4 linked regions of the Homo sapiens genome follow. The protein of the gene in region 1 purifies or fractionates together with the protein of each later gene. This does not show direct contact. Each region holds a gene or a part of one and is shown on either strand. Other genes may lie near its edges. The genes, in order: ATP1A3, NDRG3, FAM162A and SLC25A22.

The links.
Region 2: the proteins of ATP1A3 (region 1) and NDRG3 purify together in Homo sapiens (co-immunoprecipitation; 2 studies listed by BioGRID and IntAct, with this or other methods). This does not show direct contact.
Region 3: the proteins of ATP1A3 (region 1) and FAM162A purify together in Homo sapiens (co-immunoprecipitation; 2 studies listed by BioGRID and IntAct, with this or other methods). This does not show direct contact.
Region 4: the proteins of ATP1A3 (region 1) and SLC25A22 purify together in Homo sapiens (affinity purification with mass spectrometry; 2 studies listed by BioGRID and IntAct, with this or other methods). This does not show direct contact.

What each region holds. Positions count from the first base shown.
Region 1 is NC_000019.10:41,970,231-41,977,270, reverse strand, and holds part of ATP1A3 (sodium/potassium-transporting ATPase subunit alpha-3), read left to right. Parts: intron 1-704; coding exon 705-855; intron 856-1,473; coding exon 1,474-1,642; intron 1,643-6,728; coding exon 6,729-6,883; intron 6,884-6,962; coding exon 6,963-7,040. UniProt on the Homo sapiens protein: This is the catalytic component of the active enzyme, which catalyzes the hydrolysis of ATP coupled with the exchange of sodium and potassium ions across the plasma membrane.
Region 2 is NC_000020.11:36,680,051-36,687,090, forward strand, and holds part of NDRG3 (protein NDRG3), read right to left. Parts: intron 4,426-7,040; coding exon 4,363-4,425; intron 2,529-4,362; coding exon 2,468-2,528; intron 853-2,467; coding exon 766-852; intron 1-765.
Region 3 is NC_000003.12:122,387,151-122,394,190, reverse strand, and holds part of FAM162A (protein FAM162A), read right to left. Parts: intron 1-7,040. UniProt on the Homo sapiens protein: Proposed to be involved in regulation of apoptosis; the exact mechanism may differ between cell types/tissues.
Region 4 is NC_000011.10:789,975-795,281, forward strand, and holds the end of SLC25A22 (mitochondrial glutamate carrier 1), read right to left. Parts: exon of another isoform or gene 5,290-5,307; intron 5,196-5,289; 5' UTR 5,033-5,195; coding exon 5,013-5,032; intron 4,928-5,012; coding exon 4,802-4,927; intron 4,615-4,801; coding exon of another isoform or gene 4,540-4,614; coding exon 4,484-4,539; exon of another isoform or gene 4,479-4,483; intron 3,646-4,478; coding exon 3,555-3,645; intron 3,015-3,554; coding exon 2,896-3,014; intron 2,793-2,895; coding exon of another isoform or gene 2,754-2,792; coding exon 2,579-2,753; intron 2,485-2,578; coding exon 2,330-2,484; intron 2,244-2,329; coding exon 2,168-2,243; intron 2,095-2,167; coding exon 1,941-2,094; 3' UTR 501-1,940; downstream 1-500. UniProt on the Homo sapiens protein: Mitochondrial glutamate/H(+) symporter. Responsible for the transport of glutamate from the cytosol into the mitochondrial matrix with the concomitant import of a proton. Plays a role in the control of glucose-stimulated insulin secretion.

The sequences.
Region 1 (7,040 bases):
ACTTCTGTGTCTGTCTCTCTTTTTTCCTGTCTGTCTGTCATTGTCTCTCTTTTCTGTTCTGTTTTTCTGACTTCTTCAACTTTCCCATCCTCATACCTATCTCTGACTCTGCCTTCCTTCAGCTTGTCCATTTATCTCCGTTCCTCTGAATCCACTGTGTCTTGGCTGGGCGCAGTGGCTCACGCCTGTAATCCCAGCATTTTGGGAGGCCGAGGTGGGTGGATCACTTGAGGTCAGGAGTTCGAGAGCAGCCTGGCCAACATGGCAAAACCCCATCTGCACTAAAAATTAAAAAAAAATTAGCCAGGCGTGGTGGTGGGCACCTGTAATCCTATCTACTAGGGAGGCTGAGACAGGAAAATCACTTGAACCCAAGAAGCAAAGGTTGCAGTGAGCCGAGATTGCGCCACTGCACTCCAGCTTGGGTGACAGAGCGAGACTCCATCTCAAAAATAAATAAATAAATAATAAATAAATAAATAAATAAATCCACTGCCCCAAAGTCCTTCCTCAGGTCTGCCCGCACGCCCTGCTGCAGTAGCCCCCTTCTCCCCTGCTTCTCCCAGAGGCCTCTTCCCCCAGCCCCTGGTCCTCTGGCTCTCCTGGTTGTGGGGCTGGCCCCTCTGTTTCTCTGTCTTTCAGGGATCACTTTGCCACTCCTCACACACCCTGACCTCAGCCATCGCTCTCTCTGCTCTTCCCAGGGATGCCAAGGCCTGCGTGATCCACGGCACCGACCTCAAGGACTTCACCTCCGAGCAAATCGACGAGATCCTGCAGAATCACACCGAGATCGTCTTCGCCCGCACATCCCCCCAGCAGAAGCTCATCATTGTGGAGGGCTGTCAGAGACAGGTGGGCTGCGCTCCCGCAGAGGAGGGGACGGGGCCTTGACTCCTGGGTCCTCACTGAGGCCGGGGCCTGGTTTCCTGGGTCTGAGGGAGGAGGGGCTGGGGGTCTGGACCCCTGGGTCTGAGAGAGGAGGGTCTGGGGGCCTGGACTCCTGGGTCTGAGGGAGGAGGGGGCTGGGGACCTGGACCCTTGGGTCTGAGGGAGGGGGCCTGGACTTCTGGGTATGAGGGAAGAGGGGATAGGGGCCTGAACTCCTGGGTCTGAGGGAGGAGGGGGTGGGGGCCTGGACCCTTGGGTCTGAGGGAGGAGGGGCTGGGGGCCTGGACCCCTGGGTCTGAGGGAGGAGGGTCTGGGGGCCTGGACTGCTGAGTCTGAGGGAGAAGGAGGCTGGGGGCCTGGACCTCTGGGTCTGAGGGAGGAGGGTCTGGGGGTCTGGACCCCTGGGTCTGAGGGAGGAAGGTCTGGAGGCCTGAACTCCTAGGTCTGAGGGGAAGAGGAGGTTGGGGACCTGAACTTCTAGGTCTGAAGGAGGAGGGGGCTGGGGTCCTGGGCTTCTGGATCTGAGGGAGGGGACTCTGGGGACTGGCCTCTGGGTGTCATCCTTACCCTCTCTCCCTCCAGGGTGCAATTGTGGCTGTGACCGGGGATGGTGTGAACGACTCCCCCGCTCTGAAGAAGGCCGACATTGGGGTGGCCATGGGCATCGCTGGCTCTGACGTCTCCAAGCAGGCAGCTGACATGATCCTGCTGGACGACAACTTTGCCTCCATCGTCACAGGGGTGGAGGAGGGTGAGTTGGCCAGGGGTGGCCCTGGAGACCAGGGTCACTACCGGAGGCCTGAGACCAGCAAGGGGAACTGGCCAGGGCTGCAGGGGGATGTGTGGCAGAGACCACAGGCCCCCTGGCCCTGGAGGAGCCTGAGCCTGTCCTTTTCTGTCTTCCTCCCCTGTGGGGTCGGGAGCTCCCCTGGGCAGGACTGAGCTGACACACTTCAGGGTCCCTGCGTCATCCAGCCCAGGCCCCATCTGGTGGGTGAAGCTGACTTGGAGGCTTTTTAAAGATATTCTCAGCCAGGGGCGGCAGCCACGCCTGTAATCCCAGCACTTTGGAAGGCTGAAGCAGGCAGATCATGAGGTCAGAAGATCGAGACCATCCTGGCTAACATGGTGAAACCCCGTCTCTACTAAAAATACAAAAAATTAGCCGGGCATTGTGGCGGTTGCCTGTAGTCCCAGCTACTCGGGAGGCTGAGGCAGGAGAATTGCTTGAACCCAGGAGGTGGAGGTTGCAGTGAGCTGAGATTGCGCCACAGCACTCCAGCCTGGGGGACAGAGCGAGACTCCGTCTCAAAAAAAAAAAAAAATTCTCAAGCCCAACCAGGGGGAAGCCAGGGACCCTGGGGGATACCCCCTCTGCCAGCCTGGGCTGGGGGTCAAGGGAGCTTCCCAGAGTGGACAGGGATGGCTGAGCCAAGTCAGGGGCCATGCTGTGACGTCCACATAGACTAGTGCCAGGGAGTCGCAGGCAGAGGAACCGGTACACAGGCAAGGCGGTGTGAGGGGCTGGGTCTGAGGCTGGTGCTGCTGAGCCGACAGGCACCACCTCCTGACAGGCCCAGACAAGGCCACAGAAGGGTTGGTTCACATTCAGATTTATTTTGATCATCAAATTAATTCATGATAATCATAGACAAATGCAGAAAAGCATTCAGGAAAAAAGTAGAATCACCCGTAACCTCGCCATCCAGAAATAATCACGGTTCATGCCTTGGTGGATTTTCTTCCAATTTCTCTCTCCTATTTGAAATGTCTCTGGTGTAAAAAGTAGTTCATGGTAAAAGAGAATTCAAACGGCAAAGCCGAGCCCAGAGTAACAGATTAAATGTCCTCAGCCCTTGTCTCCTATATCCCAGAGGAAACCATGGTTAACACCTTCTTATCTCCCAAGAGACATCTTTTTTTGGGGGCTGGGGGCGGGGATAGAGTCTCAATCTGTCACCCAGGATGGAGTGCAGTGGCACAATCACGGCTAACTGCAGCCTCCACCTCCGGGACTTAATCGATCCTCCTGCCTCAGGCCCCTAAGTAGCTGAGACTACAGGTATGCACCATCACACCTGGCTGATTTTTAAGATTTTGTAGAGATGGGGTTTCGCCATGTTGCCCAGACTAGTCTTTCTTTTTTTTTGAGACAGAGTCTTGCTCTGTCACCCAGGCTGGAGTACAGGCATGCAATCTCGGCTTACTGTAGCCTCCACCTCCTGGGTTCAAGCAATTCTCCTGCTTCAGCCTCCCGAGTAGCTAGAATTACAGGTGCATGCCACCACACCAGGCTAATTTTTGTATTTTTAGTAGAGATGGGGTTTCACCATGTTAGCCAGGCTGGTCTTGATCTCCTGACCTGAAGTGATCCCCGCACCTTGGCCTCCCAAAGTGCTGGGATTGCAGGGGTGAGCCACCTCGCCCAGCGAGGTCTTCAACTCCTGGGCTCAAGCAATCCTCCCACCTTGGCCTCCCAATTTGCTGGGATTACAGGCATGAGCCACCACGCCTGGCCTCCCCAAGACATCTATGCATACACAGTACACACACTGTCTCAGATACAGCCGTCTGCTCCTTCCGAATCTTGTGCATCATGCTGGAAGCCTGGGAGGCAGCTGTGAGCAGAGCAGACACCATCCCTGTTCTCACAGGGCTGGAGAGACAGCCTTAAACAAGTTAACAGATATGTAATTACAAATTGTGATATATGCCCCGAAGAAAGCAGGCCGCTGTGATAGATAATAGTGAGGGTCCTGCCCAGATGGGGTGGACAGGGAAGGCCTCTCTGAAGTGAGGGAAGAAATACCTAACTTCCGTCAGGGGCCAGGCACGGGGGCTCACGCCTGTAATCCCAGCACTTTGGGAGACCAAGGCGGGAGGATCGCTTGAGCCCAGGAGTTCAAGACCTGCCTGTACAACAAATTAAGACCTCAAAGATCAAAAAATTTTAAAAATTAGCAGGGCGTGGTGTTGCACACCTGTAGTCTCAGAGACTTGGGGGGCTGAGGCAGGAGGATCACTTGAGCCTGGGTGGTCGAGGCTGCCATGAACCATGATGGTGCCACTGCACTCCAGCCTGGGATAGAGCGAGATCCGAGACCCTGTCTCAAACAAACAAACAAAATAACTTCCAACGGGGGCATTCCAGATATACCCAAAAGTAAAGCAAAGGCACAGTGGGCCCCTGCGCCTCCATCCCACCTGCAGCGGCAGTCAGCGCACGGCACACCTTGTTTCTTCCCCACCACCTGGAACACACACTGGATTATGCTGATGCACATTTGTCACCATTTCATCCATAAATAGTTTAGGATGAGAAACCCCTAGTTTGTGGAGAAGAGCACAATGCAGGGAACGAGAATATCAGGTGGGAGCGGCCCAGGCCCTTATTGCTATGCAAGAGACATCAAAGCAATCAAAGAAGCCACACCACAGGCAGCCTGCTTCACCTTCCCTTCCCTCCCTCCCTCCCTTCCTCCCTCCCTCCGTCCCTGCCTGCCTGCCTTCCTTCCTTCTTTCCTTCCTTCCTTCCTTCCTTCCTTCCTTCCTTCCTTCCTTCCTTCCTTCCTTCCCCTTCCTTCCTTCCTTCCCCCTCCCCTCCCCTCCCCTTTTTTTGATGGAGTCTTGCTCTGTTGCCAGGCTGGAGTGCAGTGGCGTGATGTTGGCTCACTGCAACCTCCACCTCCCAGCTTCAAGCGATTCTTCTGCCTCAGCTTCCCACATAGCTGGAACTACAGGCACACACCACCACTCCCAGCTAATTTTTTGTGTTTTAGTAGAGATGGGGTTTCACCATGTTGGCCAGGATAGTCTCGATCTCCTGACCTCGTGATCCACCCGCCTCAGCCTCCCAAAGTGCTGGGATTACAGGTGTTTGCCACCGTGCCCGCCTGTTCTTTCTTAATGATTGACCTCATTGTTCATGGGCTAATCTTTTTACTTATTTATTTATTTAGAGACAAGGTCTCACTCTGTTGCCCAGGCTGGAGCGCAGTGCTGCAATCATCAGTCACTGCAACCTCGACCTCCTCAAGTGATCCTCCCACCTCAGCCTCCCAAGTAGCTGCGACCACAGGCTCGAGCCACCGTGCCTGACTAATGTTTATTTTATTTTATTTTATTTTTTTGAGATGGAGTCTTGCTCTGTTGCCCAGGCTGGAGTGCAATGGCACAATTGCGGCTCACTGCAACGTCTGCCTCTGAGGTTCAAATGATTCTCCTGCCTCAGCCTCCCAAGTAGCTGGGGTTACAGGTGCCCACCACCACGCCCAGCTAATTTTTGTATTTTTAGTAGAGATGGGGTTTCATCATGTTGGCCAGGCTGGTCTTGAACTCTTGATCTCAGGCAATCCTCCTGCTTCGGTCTCCCAAAGTGTTGGGATTACAGGTGTGAGCCCCAGCGCCTGGCCTGGATTAATCTTTATTTTGTTTACTTTAGACAACCTGTACTGGTTGAATATTTATTGAGATATGGCATGCATACAGTGAGTTGGGCATATTATATCTCATTAAAATATTCAACCAGACAGGGTGTATAAATTTTTACACATGTACACAGCCATGCAACCACCAGACCCCAGTCAAGATAGAAAACCATTCCAGCCCCCCATTTAGGTTTTGTCTGCTCTCTTCCAGTCTATATCCCTCCTCCTAGACATAACCATTATCCTGACTTTTAGCCCAGAGACGGGTGCTGAGCCTGCTCCAGTTGGAGTTGGATGCTAAGAATGCTTTTGTGTCTGGCTCGTGTCACTCAGCACGGGATCCAAGGTCCAGCTGTGGAGTTGTGTCCGTAGCTCGCCCCTTCTTGCTGTGTAGTATTTGACTGCATGGATGTACCGTGGTTTATTCATCCCTCACCTGTTGATGGACATGGGGTTGACTCTGGCTTTTGGCTCTGATGAGTGGTGCTATGGTGAACATTCTCGTACTTGCTTTTCGCTGGGCATAAACAGTCCTCCTCTCTTTTGGGTATAAAACCTAGGAGTCGGATTACTCGGTCGGTGGGGTGGGGGATGTTTGATAGCAACTCCGAAACCATCTTCCAAAGTGGTTATTTCAAGAATGTTTCCACAAAGGCGATGTGGTTGGATGTTTATGTGGAAAGGTAGGTGGGTGAGGGGCCAGGTGTGGAGACTTATGCCTGTAATCCCAGCACTTCGGGAGGCTGAGATGGAATCACAGCCCAGAAATTAGACAAGCCTAGGAAAAGTGGTGAGACTCTGTCTCTACTAAAAATACAAAAATTAGCTGGACGTGGTGGCGCGTGACTGTAGTCTCAGCTACATGGGAGGCTGAGGCAGGAGGATCACTTGAGCCTGGGAGTCGAGGTTGCAGTGAGCCGTGATCATGCCACTGCACTGCAGCCTGGGCAACAGAGTGAGACCCTGTCCCAAAAAGAAAATAATGGTGGGTGGGCTGGGGGGTAGAAAAGGACGCTGGACAGGCCGGGCGCGGTGGCTCACGCCTGTAATCCCAGCACTTCAGGAGGCCGAGGAGGGCAGATCACGAGGTCAGGAGATTGAGACCATGCAGGCTAACACAGTGAAACCCCGTCTCTAATAAAAATACAAAAAAATTAGCCGGGCGTGGTGGCAGGTGCCTGTAGTGCCAGCTACTCGGGAGGCTGAGGCAGGAGAATGGCGTGAACCCGGGAGGCGGAGCCTGCAGTGAGCCGAGATCGCACCACTGCACTCCAGCCTGGGCAACACAGCGAGACTCTGTCTCAAAAAAAAAAAAAAAAAAAAAAAGGACGTTGGATGAGGGCAGAGGAGGGGCAGAGGGAGTGGGGCTCCCTGGCATGGGCGCCTGCTCTGAGCCTGCCTGTGCCACAGGCCGCCTGATCTTCGACAACCTAAAGAAGTCCATTGCCTACACCCTGACCAGCAATATCCCGGAGATCACGCCCTTCCTGCTGTTCATCATGGCCAACATCCCGCTGCCCCTGGGCACCATCACCATCCTCTGCATCGATCTGGGCACTGACATGGTGAGCCCTGGCAGCCACCCTTGGGGCCCAGGAGGGTGGAGTCCTCCCCTCTCCGGCTCACCCGGCCTCCTCCGCCTAGGTCCCTGCCATCTCACTGGCGTACGAGGCTGCCGAAAGCGACATCATGAAGAGACAGCCCAGGAACCCGCGGACGGAC
Region 2 (7,040 bases), on another chromosome or scaffold:
CGACCTCAGGTGATCTTCCCGCCTCTGCCTCCCAAAGTGCTGGGATTACAGGCATGAGCCACCGTGCCCAGTCCAAACTGTAATTTAGAACTACTGCTACATACAACTTGGATGAGTTTCACAGACACCGTGATGAAAGAAAAGAAACCAGACAGGCTGGGTGCGGTGGCTCACGCCTGTAATCCCAGCAGTTTGGGAGGCCGAGGCGGGTGGATCACAAGGTCAGGAGTTCAAGACCAGCCTGGTCAAGATGGTGAAACCTGGTCTCTCCTAAAAATACAAAAAAATTAGCCGGGCATGGTGGTGGGCACCTGTAATCCCAGCCACTCGGGAGGCTGAGGCAGAGAATTGCTTGAACCGGGAGGTGGAGGTTGCAGTGAGCCAAGATCATGCCACTGCACTCCAGCCTGGGCAACAGAGTGAGACTCCATCTCAAAAAAAAAAAAAAAATACAGTTTCTATGATTCCAATTTAACAGATAAAACTGTTTAAAAACAGATAAAACTTATCTCTGGTAACAACAGTCAGAACAGGTAATTTCTGGGAAGGAGAGGAAGTATCAATTAGGAAAAGATACAACGGAATCCCCTAGTGAGCTGGGAATATTCTATATCTTGATTGGATGGTGATTTTATATGTAAACATTCTTCAAGCTATATACTTAACATTTTTACCCTTAACTGTATATATACCTCAATGAAAAACTGGTAAGCTGTTTTGAGATGGGCCAAGATAAGCCGATGGACACCTTCATGTGGTACTTACTTTGGAAGCTGCCCAGTCAATCCAGCCTTTAGCGCAAGGGTCAACATTAATGAGCACAAGGCCTTCCACAAGCTCTGGATGGTTGAGCTGAAAGATGAGGCAAAGACAATAGTATGAAAGCTACACTCCCACAGTTCTTCTAAACAGTTGGAACATGGTTGATCAATTCTTACTTACATGCCTTAATGCCTCACATTTGAAAGTAAGACTACAAAGAGGGAGAACATGTGGAAAAATAGCTCTTGAAATCTGACTTAGCATATGGAAACCAGTTTCTGGTTTTGCTATCAAATTACTTATTTTACTATCAAATTATCTTGTCTTGCAAAGATCTATATGCAGTTGTTCAATTCATGGTGGATCTTCCTCATTGGGAAAGTGCGCTTGGCACAAGCAGCTGCTCCATGCTCATATATCTTTGTTCTCAACAGAGGCTTCTGAAGTTTTTTTTTCTGAAACCATCTGAACAGTCTGTATCATCCTCAGAAGACTCTCCTATCACTGAGGACGTATTAAAAAAAAATAATGATAATAATGTCTGGCCGGGCACGGTGGCTCACGCCTGTAATCTCCGCACTTTGGGAGGCTGAGGAGGGTGGATCACGAGGTCAGGAGTTAGAGACCAGCCTGACCAACATGGCGAAACCCCATGTCTACTAAAAATGCAAAAATTAGCTGGGTGTGGTAGTGGGCGCCTGTAATCCCAGCTACTCAGGAGGCTGAGGCAGGAGAATCACTTAAACCCAGGAGGCGGAGGTTGCAGTGAGCCGAGATTGCACCACTGCACTCCAGCCTGGGCGACACAGCAAGACTTCATCTCAAAAAAAAAAAAAAAAAAAATTTATAATAGGAGCTCTAGCTCTCTAGCTTATTTAATTTAATTTAATTTAATTTTCTTTTTGAGACAGAGTTTCGCTCTTGTTGCCCAGGCTGGTGCAGTGATGCTATCTCGGCTCACTACAATCTCGGCCTCTAGGATTCATGCAATTCTCCTGCCTCAGCCTCCTGAGTAGCTGGGATTACAGGCACCTACCACCACGCCCAGCTAATTTTTGTATTTTTAGTGGAGACGGGGTTTCACCATGTTGGCCAGGCTGGTCTCGAACTCCTGACCTCAGGTGATCCACCCGTGTCGGCCTCCCAAAGTGCTAGGATCACAGGCGTGAGCCACCGTGCCTGGTCCCTGGCTTACTTTTTTTCTCTGACTACAGTGATTATATTCACGATAGAAAATTTGATAAGCAGAGAAATTATAAAAAGCAGAAAATAAAAATTTCACATTATCTTACCACATATCAATCCATTAATATTTTTTGGTACATTTTCTTCCAGTCCTTTCCTATGGCTATGACAAACTTTATGTCAATCTATATTCTAACTTTTTGGTTAACATTATAATGTATGCAAACCATGTATCATTATAAAGCTTTTCGTAAACTTAATTTTAATGGCCGCACAAAATTCCATTATAAGCAGCATCTAGGACTTGCTTTTTATTGATGATGTACTGTCCCCATTTGTGATTTTTCAGGTATTGTTAAGTACAAAGCTAGGCTTTATACAACCTGTATCTAAAGCTGACAGAAGTTACAGAAAAACTGACATAAGGCCCAGAATACTGCCTGGTCATTTAACACAGCAGTAATAGCTGTGACCCAGGCACTGCCTCAAGGATGTTGAGGCTAATCCTCTACATACTTACTGCAAATCTGCTGAGGATGTAAGCTCCAGCTCCAACTCCAATTCCAATGATGCTTTTCAGGCTGTGAATGGGACATAACGACAACTGACAGAGTCAACTTCATTTGCAGGCAGCATTGCATAATTGAAAGCATACAACCTGGGTTGAAATCCTGGCTCTGATATTTATTAGATGTGAGAATTTGGGCAAGTGTTTTTTTTCTTTCCCCTAACTTTCTGAGCCTCAGTTCCTTATTTATAAAACAAGGATCTCAGCTGGGCGCAGTGGCTTACGCCTGTAATCTTAGCACTTTGGGAGGCCGAGGCAGGCGGATCACGAGGTCGGCGGATCACGAGGTCAGCAGATCAAGACCATCCTGGCCAACATGGTGAAACCCCGTCTCTACTAAAATACAAAAAATTAGCCGGGCATGGTGGCGTGCGCCTGTTAAAAAAAAAAACAAAGGCTGGGCACGGTGGCTCACGCCTGTAATCCCAGCACTTTGGGAGGCCGAGGCGAGCGGATCACGAAGTCAGGAGATCGAGACCATCCTGGCTAACACGGTGAAACCCCGTCTCTACTAAAAATACAAAAAAAATTAACCAGACATGGTGGCGGGCACCTGTAGTCCCAGCTGCTCGGGAGGCTGAGGCAGGAGAATGGCATGAACCCGGGAGGTGGAGCTTGCAGTGAGCCGAGAATGCGCCACTGCACTCCAGCCTAGGTGACAGAGTGAGACTCTGTCTCAAAAAAAACAAAAAACAAAACCAAAAAAAACAAGGATCCCACCAACTACTTTCAAGTTGGTTTTAATGGTTAAATAAAATATAACTGAGACCGGGGGCAGTGGCTCACGCCTATGATCCCAGGACTTTGAGAGGCCAAGGCAGGTGGATCATTGAAGGTGAGGAGTTCGAGGTCAGCCTGGCCAACATCATGAAACCCCGTCTCTACTAAAAATACAAAAAAAATTAGCCAGGCATGGTGGCCTGTGCCTGTAATCCCAGCTAAATGGGAAGCTGAGGCAGGAAAATCGTTTGAACCCAGGAGGCAGAGGCTGCAGTGAGCTGCGATCGCACCACTACACTCTAGCCTGGGTGATGGAGTGAAACTCCATCTCAAAACAAATAAATAAATAAATAAATATATGTATATATATGTATATATACATATATATATACACACACATATATGTACACACACACACACACACACACATATAAAAATATATATAACTGAAACCTGGGAGTTATCCTTGGTAGCTGTCAGTATCCAACCCATCAGCAAGTCAGTGGAGTCTATCTCCAGAATATATCCATCTACCTACTACTATCTACTTCAATCATCCCCCAACAGCAGCATCCAGTACCATGCTATCATTATCTCTTGCCTGGACTATTGTTAATAGTTTAACTGTTCTCCCTGCTTTCTCTCTCTGATTCTTCTCCAAACCATTCTCTTCTCAGTGAGATGAACGTTTTTAAAAAAATTTAAACAGCTTTATTTTTATTTTTTAGATACAGGGTGTCTCACTGTTACTCAGGCTGGAGTGCAGGGGTGGGATCACAACTCACTGTAGCCTTGAACTGCTGTTGTTAAGTGATCTTCCTGCCACTTGGCCCAGCTCAAGGTAGATTTTTAAATCTTCTAGGTCTCAGCGTGTGTGCCACCTTCCTAGAGAGGAATTCCCTAACTTGCCTTACTAATGTAGATCCCACCCTTATTCTCTATCACAACACCCCCACTGACTTATTTTATAGAACTTTATTATTTGTTTGCTTACTTGTTACCCCACTAAGCTCTAGGAGGACAGTGATAATATTTTTCCTAACCATCATATCCTCTGAAACAGACACTAAATAATTCACCATAGAAAGTCAATAAAAACTGCATGAAAGACTGCAGAATGAACCTACCTTAGGTGGGTAAGAACAGGAGGCAGCATTTCAGCCAGCTCATCCATTGTGGGGTACTGATACCTGCAATCCAGAAGGATATCTCCTGAATTAGAAAGCACTCACAATTCCCAGTTGCTAGAACAGCTGGAAAGGTCCAGAAGTCTTAGATAAAAGGCTGAGCGCAGTAGCTCATGCCTATAATCCCAGCACTTTGGGACACCGAGGTGGGCAGATCACCTGAGGTTGGGAGTTCGAGACCAGCCTGACCAACATGGAGAAACCTCATCTCTACTAAAAATACAAAATTAGCTGGGTGTGGTAGCACATGCCTGTAATCCCAGAAACTTGGGAGGCTGAGGCAGGAGAATTGCTTGAACCTGAGAGGCGGAGGCTGCCGTGAGCGGAGATCATGCCATTGCACTCCAGCCTGGGCAACAAGAGCAAAACTCCGCCTCAAAAAAAAAAAAAAATCTTAGATAAAAGCATTTCCTTTTACCAAAGGCTCAAAGGAGGTGATGTGGTACCCTGAAAATGATTGTGGCATATTGTGTAACTCTCTACAACTGCCATGCTAAGGAGAAAGTAAAATAATCCACGGTTTCTATATCCTAACAAGCAGCCCTTGGGACCAGAGGGTGCCACATGAAAAGAACTAGTAACATGGTTCTCTCTTAGGGTATTTCCAAACCTCTAACAATCTCTTCAGTTGGAGTCCAGGCTCAGTAAACCTCCGGCAGTAAGAGTCAACTCAGAAAGGGGGTCTTGGTCTACTGCTATATTTAGGCAACTAAATGCAAAAATAAAGCTTTTCTAGGTATGGGCACACAGTTACAAACCCTTAGCATGAATGCTTATTTGTTTCACTTAGGCATAGAATAACATAGTTATTTTTAAAATTTTATTATTATTATTATTATTATTATTAATTTTTTAAGAGACATGGTCTCACTCTGTCACCCAGGCTGGAGTGCAGTAGTGAAATCATAGCTCACTGTAACCTTGAACTCCTGGGCTCAAGCTATCCTCCTGCCTCAGGCTTCTGAGTAGCTGGGACTACAGGCGCATGCCACCATGCCTGGCTAATTTTTCAATTTTTTGTAGAGATGGAGTCTCGCTATGTTGCCAGGGCTGGTCTTGAATTCCTGGCCTCAGGTGATCCTCCTACCTCAGCCTAACAAAGTGCTAGAACTACAGGTGTGAGCCACTGTGTCTGGCATGGTTATTTTATTGTATTTGAATTTGGTTCATAATATGAACCATCTGATCCTAAGATGTTCGAGCAGGCCCAGGAACAGACCCAGATCAGAATTCCTAGAAAAGTAGTAAGCATCCGACTGGGAGCGTTGGCTCACGCCTGTAATCCCAACACTTTCAGAGGCTGAGGCAACCAGATTGCTCAAGCCCAGGAGTTCGAGACCAGCCTGAGCAACAGGGCAAAACCCTGTCTCTACAGAAAATAACAATAATTAGCCAGGCGTGTTGGCACACACTTGTAGTCCCAGCTAGTAGGGAGGCTGAGATGGGAGGATCACTTGAGCCCAGGAGGTTGAGGCTGCAGTAAGCCATGATCACGCCACTGTACTCCAGCCTGGGAAACAAAGCACTATCCTATCTCAAGAAAGAAAGAAAAAGTATTACAGAATTGGAGATGGAATTGATCCTAAGATGACCACTTATATATGAGGCAGGATCTGTTCTACATCTGACAGGGAAGTCAGCCTGCCTCTGCCTGAACACTTAAGGGGATGGTGTGCTGTGGAACCATTTGTCCACAAAATAGAAAAAAGGAACTGGATACAAATCTTGTTGGATATAAACTGACCACTGGCCAATTTGCATTTTAGAGTCAGATTCTGGCACCAGACTGTCTGGGTTCAAATCTTAGCTCTGCCACTTATTTGTTATGTAATGTTAGCCATGTTACTTAATTTTTCTGGGCCTCAGTTTCCTCACTTATAAAATGGGAATAATAGTAAACTTATCCCATAGGGTTGTGAGGAGTAAATGAGTTAACAAATGTAAAGCATTTAAAGCAGGGTCTGGAACACGGTTTGAGTACTATTTAAATATTAGCTATTATTTGTCTGCAATTGTCTATTTCCCAGCAGTCACTGGCCAAAGGCAGCTCTGGAGATGAGTGAAAGGATAGGGGAAGAATTAGCATTCCACAGAGTGTGTGCTCACTCCTCCTAAGGTCTTCTCAATAAGCACCCGTCCAGGGAACAAACAGGTAGGGAGCCTATGACTCTGCCCTGCGAAGCAGATGTAGGAGGAAGCTGAGAGTGCCAAAGCCAATCAATCACCCCACACCTCTATCTGCCAGGACAGCCTCTCAGAATAAACAGTTACACAGATAGTCAAATTTCCATTACTAGTTTGAGAGCTAAGGATGGGGAGATGCTCCCAGGAAAGCTCAGAGAGATCTGAATTTGGGCCTAAGTAGTTGGGAGTTTTGAGGAAGGACACAAAAATGACAGGTTTTTTTGTTTGTTTGTTTTCTTTCTGGGGACAGGGTCTTGCTCAGTCATCCAGGCACTGCAGCCTCAATCCCCTGGGCTCAAGTGATCCTCCCACAACAGCCTCCCAAGCAGACACGACCACAGGTGAACACCACCATGCCTGGCTGGCTAATTTTTCAATTTTTTGTAGAGACAAGGTATTCCTATGTTATCCAGGCTGGTCTTGAACCCCGGGGC
Region 3 (7,040 bases), on another chromosome or scaffold:
CCATCCTTCTTGGTGCTGTCCTCGTGATAGTGAGTTCTTATGAGATCTGGTCGTTTAAAAGTGTGTGGCACCTCCCTGATCTCTCTTGCTCTTGCTCTGGACATGTGACATGCCAGCTCCCCCTTCGCCTTCCACCATGATTGTAAGTTTCCTAAGGCCTCCCTAGAAACTTGACAAATGCCAGTATCATGTTTCCTGTACAGCCTGAAGAACGATGAACCAATTAAACTGCTTTTCTTTATAAATTACCTAGTCGTAGGTATTTCTTTTTAGCAATGCGAGACTGGCCTAACACACCTTCCATTCGTGCTCGGACAGAGACTAAATGTGAGGTGAGAGCTTAGAGACCTCTCAGGTTTTTCCTGGAAAATGTGTCCAACCTTACACATATTACATTCTAGAAATATGTCAGAGCTTTCCAGATGTCAGGATGGACATCTCATTCCCCAGCTTCTTGTTTGACCCAGCTGTTACCCACTCCATGTTATGTCAAACAAGTGCTGCTGATTATTTTCAACAAATGCACCAGGGAAAACACTGTTTGCAGTGAATAAACTCCAAGTCAGGTGAAAAAAGATAAGCCCTGTGAGTGGGGTTTCCAGCGAACTGTCAGACAAGTCAAATAGTAACAATTCTCTGCAGCTGGAAGTTTTGGAAAACTCTTAAACCCATTCTGCCTTCTTCAGTGCCTGCAAGGCTGCTGGTTTTCAAAGTAACTGTGATTTGTGAGGCTGTTGGTTTTCAAGACTATTGTGAAGCTGAAAGAAGACAGGAATAAAGCAAGTTAAAACTCCACAAAACTTGCTGTCCTACCACGATTTCAGGCTTTTTTTTTTGGATAAATGCTCCTCAGATTGTCACAAATGCCTGGTAATTTTCCAGAGTTCTGGAAAAGTTGCTTCTGCCAACTTCTGGCAGTGTTATCATTGCTTTTGGGTAAAAATGGATTTTCAGAGGTCCTTACTCTTGACACACCAGAAGTTGGAATCTCTATTTGTGGTTACCTGGCACACAGTCTTTTTCATAAAAGGCCTCATTTATTTTGTTTTCTAGGGCTATAAATGCCAGAAAGCTTTGCCTGGATCTGGCAAACACAACATCAGTGCCACCTAGTGGAAAGGAGATAAATTAACTGCTTTTAGCTTGTTTCCTCATTTAAAATGTGGATAATGCAGTGTTTCTTGTACCAAAGTTGATTTGAGGGTTAAATGGAAAAGCAAATATGGGAGCATCTGGTAAGATGCTTGAAACACAGCAGGCTCTCTAACTGTTAAGTTTATTTTTTTTTTGAAATATTATGTAAAACATTAACTTTGATAAAACTTCTAGAACACTTTTCAATTTTACCCCTAATGTGGTCAGGATTTCTGACAAAGTTAATTATGCAGTTATGAGGCCATGGGAAAAGTCTATGAAACTCTTCAATAGATTTTCATAGCACTCAGGATTAAGACACAATTATTAAATCCTGTGATCTTCAAATTTTAGTGTTTTAGTGTTTGGTGTGAATCAGAGGAATGCCTTGTTAAAACACAAATCATGAGGCTGTCTACCTCCAGTTTCTGCATCCACAGTTCTGGAATGGAGGCTGGGAATTCGCATTTCTAACAAGTTCCTAGGTGATGCTGCTATGCTGGTTCTGGACTATACTTTGAGAACCTAGGCTTTTCTCTCCCCTAAGATGTGGTTAAATATACATAACATAAAATTTACCATTTTAATTATTTTAAGTGTACAATTCAGTGGCATTAAGTACATTTACACTGCTGTGCAACTATTACTACTATCCATCTCCAGGACTTTTTCATCTCCCCAGAGAACCACTGGTTTAATGTGACCTACAAGGCCCCATCTCACACAATGCTATCCCATTCCTCCTTTGGCAGGCACTTACAAAAGGAACAAGGTTAACCGGCAGCAAGCTAGAAGGACTCTGCTCTTTAAACAGAAAAAGAATCAATAATTATTTCCTAAGACAGCTGTCCTTTCCCATTCCTCCTAATTATAGAACAAAGGCAGTTTAGGAGAACAGAAGACAAACTGCCTCTCAGCTAGCTCAGTTTGAGAAATAATAAAGCAAAAAATGCTAACATGTATACCTACTATCAGTGACATCGATGTATGTTGGAGTAATTCATTCAACAAAGTACTTCCTATGTGCCAGGCATTGTTTTAGGCAATATATAAAAAAGATAAAAATCTGTGCCAATAGAACTTGCATTCTACTGGGGAGAAAGTTATACATATGTTAGATACTAAGTGCCAGAGAGAAAAAAATAAACAATGGGGACATGAAGTATGTGTTTGGAATGGGCTGTGTATGAAATTTTACATAGAGTAGTTAGGAAGTCCTCTGTGAGAATGTCACTCTTGAAGGGAAGCAAGGGCTAGCTATGCAGCTATCTGGTGGAAGAATATTCCAAACAGAAAGAATTATAAATGCAAAGACCCTAAAAGATTCTAGAGCCCATAAAGAGAAGGCCAGTATGGCCAGAACAGAATGAATAATGGGAAGACAAGTAGAATTTGATGTGAGAGAGGTACTGAGGTAGTTATGGAGGGTAAGGACTTGGAGACATGAGAGGTTCACCTAGATCAGACTGTATCTCCCAACTTTTTCTTACTACAACTTCATATTGTATGCTAATAACTTTTACCTCCCTACAGTATAAATGCTGATTAAAACATACACACATATTATCTTATTATAGATATTAGAATAATAGACTAATGTAAATATATTTTTTTAAAGATGAGGTCTTGCTTTAAAAATATTTTTAAAAATGTTATCACTACATAGTGAAACCCCACCTCTACAAAAAATACAAAAACTAGCTGGGCGCAGTGGCATGTGCCTGTGGTCCCAGCTACTCAGGAGGCTGAGGCAGAAGGGTGGCTTGAGCCCTGGAGGCAGAGGTTGCAGAGAGCTGAGATCATGCCACTGCACTTCAGCCTGGGCGATAATGCCAGACCTTCTCTCAAAAATAAAATAAAATAAAATTTTAAATTTTAAAAAGTTATCGCTAAAAAATGTCTGAAGTATTTGATGTGGTCTTGGTTTTTATTTTGCAATTATAACAACATGAAAGCATAAACAAACTTTAATATCATTACTAAGACCTTCGTTTTCTCTCAAAGAGACAGAATATATTGACCAGACGTCCAAGCCAGAAATTTTCCATCCTCTGGTGGATCACGATTAAAAACATACAAACCAAAAGAAAAACAGCCCTTTAACCCTCTAGCTGGACTTAACAGCTTGTCCCTGGCTGACCAATTCTGTGTCTCCAGGGCCCTAGCAGGAAGTTAAGATGAAGCCTCACAGCTGTCTCTAAGGCTCTGGGTGGCAAACGGCTAATCTTAAGAGTAAAGGTTCTTAACTTTTTTATCTATCGAAATCACCTGGGGGACCCTGTGAAACAGATTACTGGACCCAACTGATACAGTCAGTATGGACAGAACCTGAGAATGTGCACTTCTAACAATTGCCCAGGTAATGGTGAAACTTCTGCTATGGGGGACCCATAATCTGAAAACCAGTGCCTTAGAAATATCATTGCTAGCTGGAGGCTATAGTGGTCAGCCAGGGTGAGGCTGGTTGAAGTACCAGCTTCTCTCCTGGTAGTCCCCTCCTTTCCATAAATATCCTTTCCAACCCCATGATAGACAGTGAGGAAAGGTAGGGATGCTTTTTCTTTCTCAGAATCTTTCAAGGTCCTCTTGGAGAAAACCATAGGTGATGTGACTGGAGATATGACAACTCTCTGGGAATCAGAGAATCAATATTACAACCCACTCCCCAGAGTGTCTATCTGAAACTCTCTAGGCCTTAGCTGTTGACCTGGGCTTTGTGACAGAAACAGACTCCCTATATCCGTTTTCTCATCCTTCCCTGCAGGCTTGAAGAAATACCAGTCTTCCTTTATTCTTAAGTAGTAATCCCTCTGCTGAGGGATGTCGTACCAAACTTATCCTTATTTTCCACTGCCTTTTTCCTGCCAAATGTTATCTCCCCCATCTTTAAAATCAAAACTAAAAAACTTATTTTTTTTTTTAGAGACAAGGTCTCACTTTGTCACCTAGGGTAAAGGGCAGTGGAGAGATCATAGCTCACTGTAACTTTGAACCGGGCTCAAGCGATCCTCCTGTATCATCTTCTGGAGTAGTTGGGACCACAGGCAGATGCCACCATGTCTAGCTAATTAAAAAAATTTGTTTTGTAGAGATCGGGTCTCACTATGTAAAAACCTTTGTACCACCAAGTTGTTACACACCATGTTATGTAAAAAGCTTTTAGTAAAACAAACTTTAAATGATAAAAGTAACACTTGCTCATTACAGAAAATTTGGAAGTTAAAAAAAGATGTGAAGAAAAATAAAAGCACTCATAATCATAGCACTTAGGGATAACAACTTGGTGCATTAATATTTCTTTTCAGACCTTTCCTATACTTACATAAAACATATACATTTTTCATAATCAGATAATACTGTATCTTGCTATGTCACAAATACTTTCCAAGATATTAATACTTTTAATAGCTGTATAAAACCCGACACACAGCTATAATCTGAATGTAGTAATTCCCTACAACTTGATTTCTTTCCAATTTTTCAGTGTTATAAGTAATGTTTCAATGAACAGTTCTCTACATACATCTTTGATGGTATTTCTGATTATTTCCTTAGAATAAAATCCTGGAAGTGAAGGGTAAAAGGGTATGAACCCCTTTAAGTTTCCATCTATCTATCTCATCTATCTATCTATCTATCTATCTATCTATCTATCTATCTATCTATCTATCTATCCATCTATACTACTTTCCAGAAAGGCTGACTACTTCTCCAGTAACTTCTACTAGTAGTTACTGAGAATTCTGTCTTATTACTCTACAATAACACTGAAGGTCCACTATGTTGGACAAAGCATTCACTTGTTCTCAACAGGTACTATTAATAAAATTCTTATTTCCTCTTTTTCATAGCTCAAATGATTGAATAAATGGCATGTATCTACTACTTCACTTCACCACCCACACTTTATTTTGCTACAATGTTTCCTTCTCCAATCATTTTACTAAAATTACTCTACCAACATTAGTGACCTCTTTCTAGTCATATGAATACATTTTTTTTTTTTTTGAGACGGAGTCTTGCTCTGTTGCCCAGGCTGGAGTGCAGTGCTGTGATCTCAGCTCACTGCAAGCTCTGCCTCCCGGCTTCACGCCATTCTCCTGCCTCAGCCTCCTGAGTAGCTGGGACTACAGGCGCCCACCACCACGCCCGGCTAATTTTTTGTGTTTTTAGTAGAGACAGGGTTTCACCGTGTTAGCAAGGATGGTCTCGATCTCCTGACCTCGTGATCCGCCCACCTCGGCCTCCCAAAATGCTGGGATTACAAGCTTGAGCCACCGTGCCCGGTCATGAATACATTTTTTTAGATTCTCATCATTAGCCCTTCTGACTCTACTCTTCCCATTTTTGTGGCCATTTGATTCGACTGATCTCATCTTTCTACAAGGATTCAATGCCTCCTTACATTGTACCACCAAATTCTCTCACTTCATCTCCAACCTCTATGACCAATCTTCTTTAATGTCTTCTTTCCCAGTTCCTATTATTTACACCATGTCACACCTCCAAGGCTTAGTCCTTGCTTCTATTCTGTGCTACTCTCTGGAAGGACTCCTCCATTCTGTTTTAAAAATCAACTCCAGACTAATTGCTCCCATATCTTTATCTCCATAACTTTACTCTTCCTTTGCCCTCAGGTCTTCAACCTCTCACAACCTATAACTCAGTGCCACCTAAACCTACTCAATAATGCACCATCTTCTCTGCCAAACTAACACAAATCTTTGATGGCGTTTCTGATTATTTTTCCAACTTTCTTATTTCTGACAATGAGGCAATACTTCTGTAGTCCTCAACATTAAAAAACTTGTCTTTAAGTCCTTCCTTACTCAGTATCTCCAAACTCATCCTTTCTTCAAGACACTTCCTAAATATATTCGTTATTTCCATCATCACCTCACACATCAGTTACTGTAATATCTTCATAGGTAGCAGCAATTCAACTGGTATGTAGTTGCTGAGTTAATTTTCCAGAAATGTTTCTTGTGTTACTTCTCCTGCTAAAAGGTTTTTTTGGTCCAAATTCATTTGGTTCAAACGTCTCCAAACACTACACTTTACCTCCTATTGCCTCCTGATCAAAATCCCTAAGGTAATCTTTCCTCTCTCATATCCTTTTTCAGACTCATTACCGCCCCTACATGTGCTCACAACTCATTACCGCCCCTACATGTGCTCACATCACTCTCACACCCCTTCATTTCAATGGAGCCTTCAAGAATCTCAGAATTCTTGAAGCCAATGGTATATTATATATGTTTGTTTGTTCATTGCAATAAATCAGCCCTAGGAGTGGGGCAGTCCATTCATTTTAGAGCCTTCACAGTATACACACAGGGCATCCATTGTGTACTCAATAAATACTTGGCAAGACCTGGAAAGGAGCAATAAGTAAAGCCAAATGTGGGGGTAGTTAAAATGCGTACGTTCTCATTTAGGTTTGGTTAGCAAGAACAAACAAAAAGAATAAGGTAGCAGAATGTGGTAGAAATAAAATCAGAATGGGAGCCAGGGGATACTGGCTATGTCCCAGGTCTGTACCTGTGTGGTCCTTGGCAAGCTGATTCCCTTCTTGGCCCTTAAGTTTCCTCATCTGTAAAAATTAGAGGACTAAATTACCTGACTTCTAAGATACCTCTCTACTCTAATGCTCTGAGATGTGGGTTAAACTAAAAGGAAGGCAGCCCATAGTCCATTACATTGGTAACAATGACGGTAACAAATTCATTTTCAAATCTGACCAGTCAACAGAGTTTAGGGGAGCAAAACTTTCTTTCAATAAGAAACATTCTTGTAAGGTCATTCCATTCCTTTGAACTAATAATCATTCTGTGGAAAGATACAATATCCTAAAAGTTATATCTATTTTATTCTTTCAGGAGAAAACAGGTGTGAAAACTCACCTT
Region 4 (5,307 bases), on another chromosome or scaffold:
GCAGGACGCCGCGCCCGCCCCGCCCGCCCCGCCCGCCGGGAGCCCCCCGCCTTACGCGTCCTCCGGCCTCCCCGGGGCTGCGCGCTCCTCCGCGGGATGACGGCGGCTGCGAACGCGGAGGAGAGCTCGGGAGTTTCCCACAATGCACTGCTCCCGGCGCAGGAGGGCGGGGAGGGGGAGGGGCGACCGGGCCCCGCCCCGCCGGGAACCGTGGGATCCGCAAACCCAGCTCCGCCTTAGATCCAGGGGTAGAAACTTAGGGTCCGAGAGAGCAACTGCGGGGTCCAAGTCCCATCTGGGACTGCCAGAGGCAGGAGGCGGGTCCCGCTCAGCATCCCCTCTAGGCCAGGGTGCCCCTTGGTCGGTGGGTGACGGGTCGGTGGGTGAGGGGTCGGTGGGTGGGTGCGCAGGCCTAGCCCTGCAGTCTGAAGGGAGCCAGTTATGGGAAGAGGGGACTGCCCTCCCCCGCCCCCAAACAGACCCCCAGACAGACAGCAGCATCTACTTAGAATATTTATTTATTCTCTGACATGACAAGACACAAAAAGTTACAACTTCTTAAAACTCTTCAAAAGAAAAAAATATAATTCTGTAAGCAGCAGCAGCAGCTTCCAAGGTTCTGATGTGACGGGAGGGGCAGCTCCCAGGAGCAACCGTGAACTGGGGGGGTCCAGGCCTGAGCCCCAGGTAGTGTCGCTGGGAAGGGGCCTCTGTGGAGGGCCCCGGTTTTGGGGACACAGCACCAGCACATCAGGGTCTGTCACCAACACGATCACATGGCCAGGGCGGGGCAGGGAGAGCTTCGGCTCACAGCAGGGATCGCCCGGTGGCAGGGGGGATGGGGCTTCTGAAGTGTGGTCAGGGGCCTTATGCCCGGAGGCGGGAAGGATGGGGCTTCTGCAGTGTACCCAGGGGCCTTATGCAGAGGCTGAAAAAGGAGGGTGGGCCCTGAGAGGACTTGGGGGTGTGGCAGCTCCTGGCCCTCCCTCCAGAGCAGGGCAGGCACCCTCAGGCTCCACACTGGTCCCAATGCCCGCCCTGCTCCCTGGCCAATCCCAGGCCAGGGTGGAGGACTCAGGAGAGACCAAGCTGGGTAAGTTAGTTCCTGGACGGGGTCAACAGAGCCTGGGGCACACACAGCACACAGAGCGCCTGGCCACGGCGGGAAGGGGGGCAGTCCCCAGCAGCCCCATCCCCAAGGGCCAGGCCAGATCCCCACAACACACACACGCATGCACACACACATACACACACACATGCACACAGACCTCACAATCTGGGCCCCAGCCTGGGGTGGGAGCTGAGGAGCCCACCAGAAAGTCCCACAGTGGGTGGCGGGCTTGCCCCAAGAGTCAGACCTCAGGGCAACCCCTCACTTGGGATTCCTGGCTCAACAGAGAGGGCAGGAGACCCCAGTCCTCTTGCAAGGCTGGCCAGGGAGGCAGAGTCAAGTCCTGCCAAGGCGACAAGAGCGGCTGGGGAAGGACGGAAGGGCTGGAGAGCCGCTTGGGTCCAGCAGATTCAATAAATAGGTTTGTGTGGGGTGCCTGTGTGGGCCAGGATGGCTGTGGAGACTGGAGCTGGTGGACTGGGGGTATGGTCCAGCCTGCCCGGCCCAGGCCCGGGGGCCCCCAGCCCAGAGACCAGCTCTGTCCCTGGGGGTGTTCAGGCCAGGGCAGGATTGGGGCAGGGGCTAGCTTGAGGAATGTAAAGATTTCTGCATTTTCTACATAAATGAGACATTGATCCCAACGGTGCAGGCAGCACCCCGGGGGGCTTGCGTGTGCACCACCTATGTGGACCCTGCACCCTGCCCCCTGCTGCCCCTGCCGACGGGAGGGCTGGGGAGGGGTCTTCCCTTGCTCCGTCCTGGGCTAGCTGCCTGGCTCCAGCCCCACACCGGCCCTGCCCAGCTGGCTGGGGTGGAGCGGGTGCTGGGCTCAGGCCTGGGGGTCCTGCAGCAGCCCCAGCAGGGACTCCGCGATGCCCAGGAAGTAGACCACCTGTGCGATGCCGAAAAGGGGCGCGATGACCAGCGCGCGGCAGTAGGCGCCCTTCAGGAAGGCCGAGGGGCCCTCGTGCCGCAGGATCTTCCTGTGGAGGAAGGACGAAAGGGTCAGCCCGGTACGCAGGCCCCCAGGCCCCACCCGCCGTGGGACCTCCCCACCTGGCACAGTCCAGGATCCCAGAGTAGGTGTCCTCGTTGACGCCTCGCTGAAGTGACTGGAGCCGCGTCTTCACCACTGCAAGGGGCGCTCGGGTCAGTGTGAGCCTGGCCAAGGGCTCAGTCCCGCCCCATCCCCAGCCGGGCGCCATCCCATGCACTGACCATCACAGGGGTTGACGGCCACAGCGGCGGCACTCCCAGCCACACAGCCGGCCAGGAAGGACACGTAGAAAGGCGACTTCTCCTCGGACGCCGGGCGGCCCAGCTGGTTCAGGTTGGCAAAGAGCGGGAAGTACACCACAGAGAAGGGGACATCCCTGTGGGGAGGGAGGTGGCCGTGGGGACAGGAGGTGGTGGGGTGGGCAGGCCGGCCTCCCCCTTCCCTCCCCCCACCTGCCCTGTGCCTCCTACCTGAGCAGCGTGGCCCCGAGTCCCTTGTAGAGACCGGCAATGCCACGGCTCCGCAGCAGGTCGCGGGTCAGCTGGGTGGCCGTGGGCCGAGGGGCAGCTGGAGCCTCCACTGAGGGCTGGGCACCCCCCTGGGCCGAGAGCTGGCCCTGGGCAGCCAGGATCTTCCTCTGGGCGGCTGGGGACAAAGAGGCTGCTGTCTCCTCTTCTGTGCGAACTGGGCAGGGGACACGCTCTGGCCCTCCCTGCGTCCCCACCCTCCCCTCGCCCTCACCTCTTCCCGCACCTCTGCCCTCTCCTCCCCCTCCCCCCGCCCTCACCAATGCGCCCTGCATCCTGCAGCTGGATCTTCAGCATCTCCATGGGCGTGGTCACGATCACCTGGCAGGTGCCAGCCCCACAGCCCGCCAGCATCTCTTTAAGCAGGGTCAGCTTCTGCCTGTGGTAGGGGCGGGGCCGCAGTAAGTGGGAAGAGACAGGTCTACCTGCCACCCTCGGGGCTGCCCACCATGCCTGGGCGCAGAGGATGGTGGGAGCCGTGGAGGCAGATGCAGGCCTGTGGGGGTACAGCCCCCAGCCTCCGCCACTGCAGCAGCAGGCAGGGAGGAGACCGATGGACAGACGGCCCCACAGGCAGGGGCCTGGGGAGGGCAGTGGGGCTGTCTGCGACAAAGGAAAATGGGAAATTGGGGGTCAAGTGCCCCAAAAAGGGGCTGCCCTTGCAGTCCCCCTCCAGTGATGGGGGAGCTGGTCAGTGCCCTCAGGCCAAGGGCTACCAAGCCAGAGCCCCACTGATTTGACATCTGCTTTGCTCCCCTGGTCAGGGGAAAGGAGGGAGGGTGCCCCACGAGGTCAAAGAAGCCCCAAGCAAGGGGCTGAAGACAGGCAGAGCCCCCAGGTGGGACCCAGCTGGCAGGGTGGACCCATCCTTTATCTGAAGCCAAAGACCCCTCGAGTGTCTGCCAGGCAGAACCCTCACCCGTCCTTAGAGAGCTGATGTCGGAAGAAGTCGTTGGCTGCCAGCTTGATGGCCTTCTCGGGGGTGACGAGGGTCAAGTTCACAGCAGCTCCTGTGGGGCAGGGGGTCAGCTGGGGGGACATGCTCGGTGGCCTGAGTGGGGAGGCGCTTGGCCAGGACTTGCCTCCTGGCTGGCAAAACCCTGTCCCAGTCACTCCTGGCCACCATCTGTTCTCTCACCCACATTTGGGCCTGGTGTGTGCCAGGTGGGGCGGGGCCAGGCAGGGATGGGGCAGCACCTCAGGCTCAGGCTCTCCCATGCCCACTGCAGCTCCATCTGTCTCTGATTCTGGGCAGCATCTTGCTGCTCAGGGCATGAGGACTGCCCCGGAGCCCCTGAGGCCTCCCTAGGATACCTCTCCCTCCCTGGAGGACAGATGGTGCTTGTGCTGGCAGGGGGCTGGGGCCAGAGGTCACAGGAGTGTGTGGTCTGGACTGGGCCAGAGCTCGGGGGAGGCTGTGGAGAGCCCCCATCTCAGTGCCGAAGGCTCAGGGCTGGAGAGCTTCTGCCAAATCTAGGCTCTGGATTGTGTCCTAAGCTGCTTTGCGGTAATGCCCCTTACTCCCTCCCATCCCCAGCCACAAACGGGGTCCAGCCTGGCCCAGAAGGCAGAGGCAGCTGTGGCCACCAGAGAAGAGACAGATGTACCATGGCATCCCACGCACCAGGCACTAAGTGGGGGTGGGGAGCTGCCACGGGAGAGGCTGAGAACTACCACTCACCAGAGATCCAGTCCCCCCTGCACAGGCACAGCCCCCACAAACACGTCCACGCTCACACACCAGGCCCAGGCTGGCCGCCCTGCCCTGCCTCCCCCACCGCTCCCTGCCACGACTCGCGGGCGCTACCCAGGCCTGCCCATATCGAGCCCAGCCGAGCCAAACCTCACCCCGGTACATGCCGAAGTAGCCCTCGGAGCGGACGGTCTTGATGAGGCAGTCGGACCTGTGGCCAAGGGGACAGGGTGAGCCAGGGCCAGCTGGGGCCAGCCGGAGGCCAGGGTCCCTGGACTGTCTAGGGCTGATAGAAGAGGCCAAGTCCTCAGCCCAGCCCCGACCCCAGTCCTGACCCACGTGGGATCTCCCCTAGGCCCGCCTGCCTCCCGTTTCCCTTCTGTCAAACAGGGTGGGGGGCACAGGAGCAGAGCCCCCACCTCTCCTGCTGCCACATGCTGGGCCCACTCCCCGCGACCGCCCGGCACACTCACATGCTCGTGTACACGCGCTGGCCGTTCTGCTGGTTCTGCAGCCTGGTCTTGGCCAGGTCGATGGGAAACACGCAGGTGACACCGATCAGCCCGGCGATGCCGCCATTGATGAGCTTGGCTGGCAGGCTGTGTGGACAGGGGTGTCAGGACCGGCTTCCTTGACCATGGGTCAGGGTGGGGGTGAGGCACGCAGCCAGGACTGGAGTCTGACCTGATCTGCTTATCAGCCATTTAACTCGATTGCACCCAGGTAGGAGCCGCAGAGGTGGACGCCAGGCCAGGCGGGGTGGAGGTGGAGGTGGAGGAGGCCTTGAGGGAGGGTGGGACCCAGGGGGGTTGGGTGGTGCTCCACCTTCAGGGGAATTTCCAGGCGTCAGCAACCGCCACTTCTGTCCTAGAAGGATGAGGGAATGGGAATGAGTGAGGGTGGGGCCACCCGAAGAGTAATCCTCCCCCAGCCTCCCTCTCTCACGCAGCCCCTCACCCACCACCCCAGACTGAAGCCG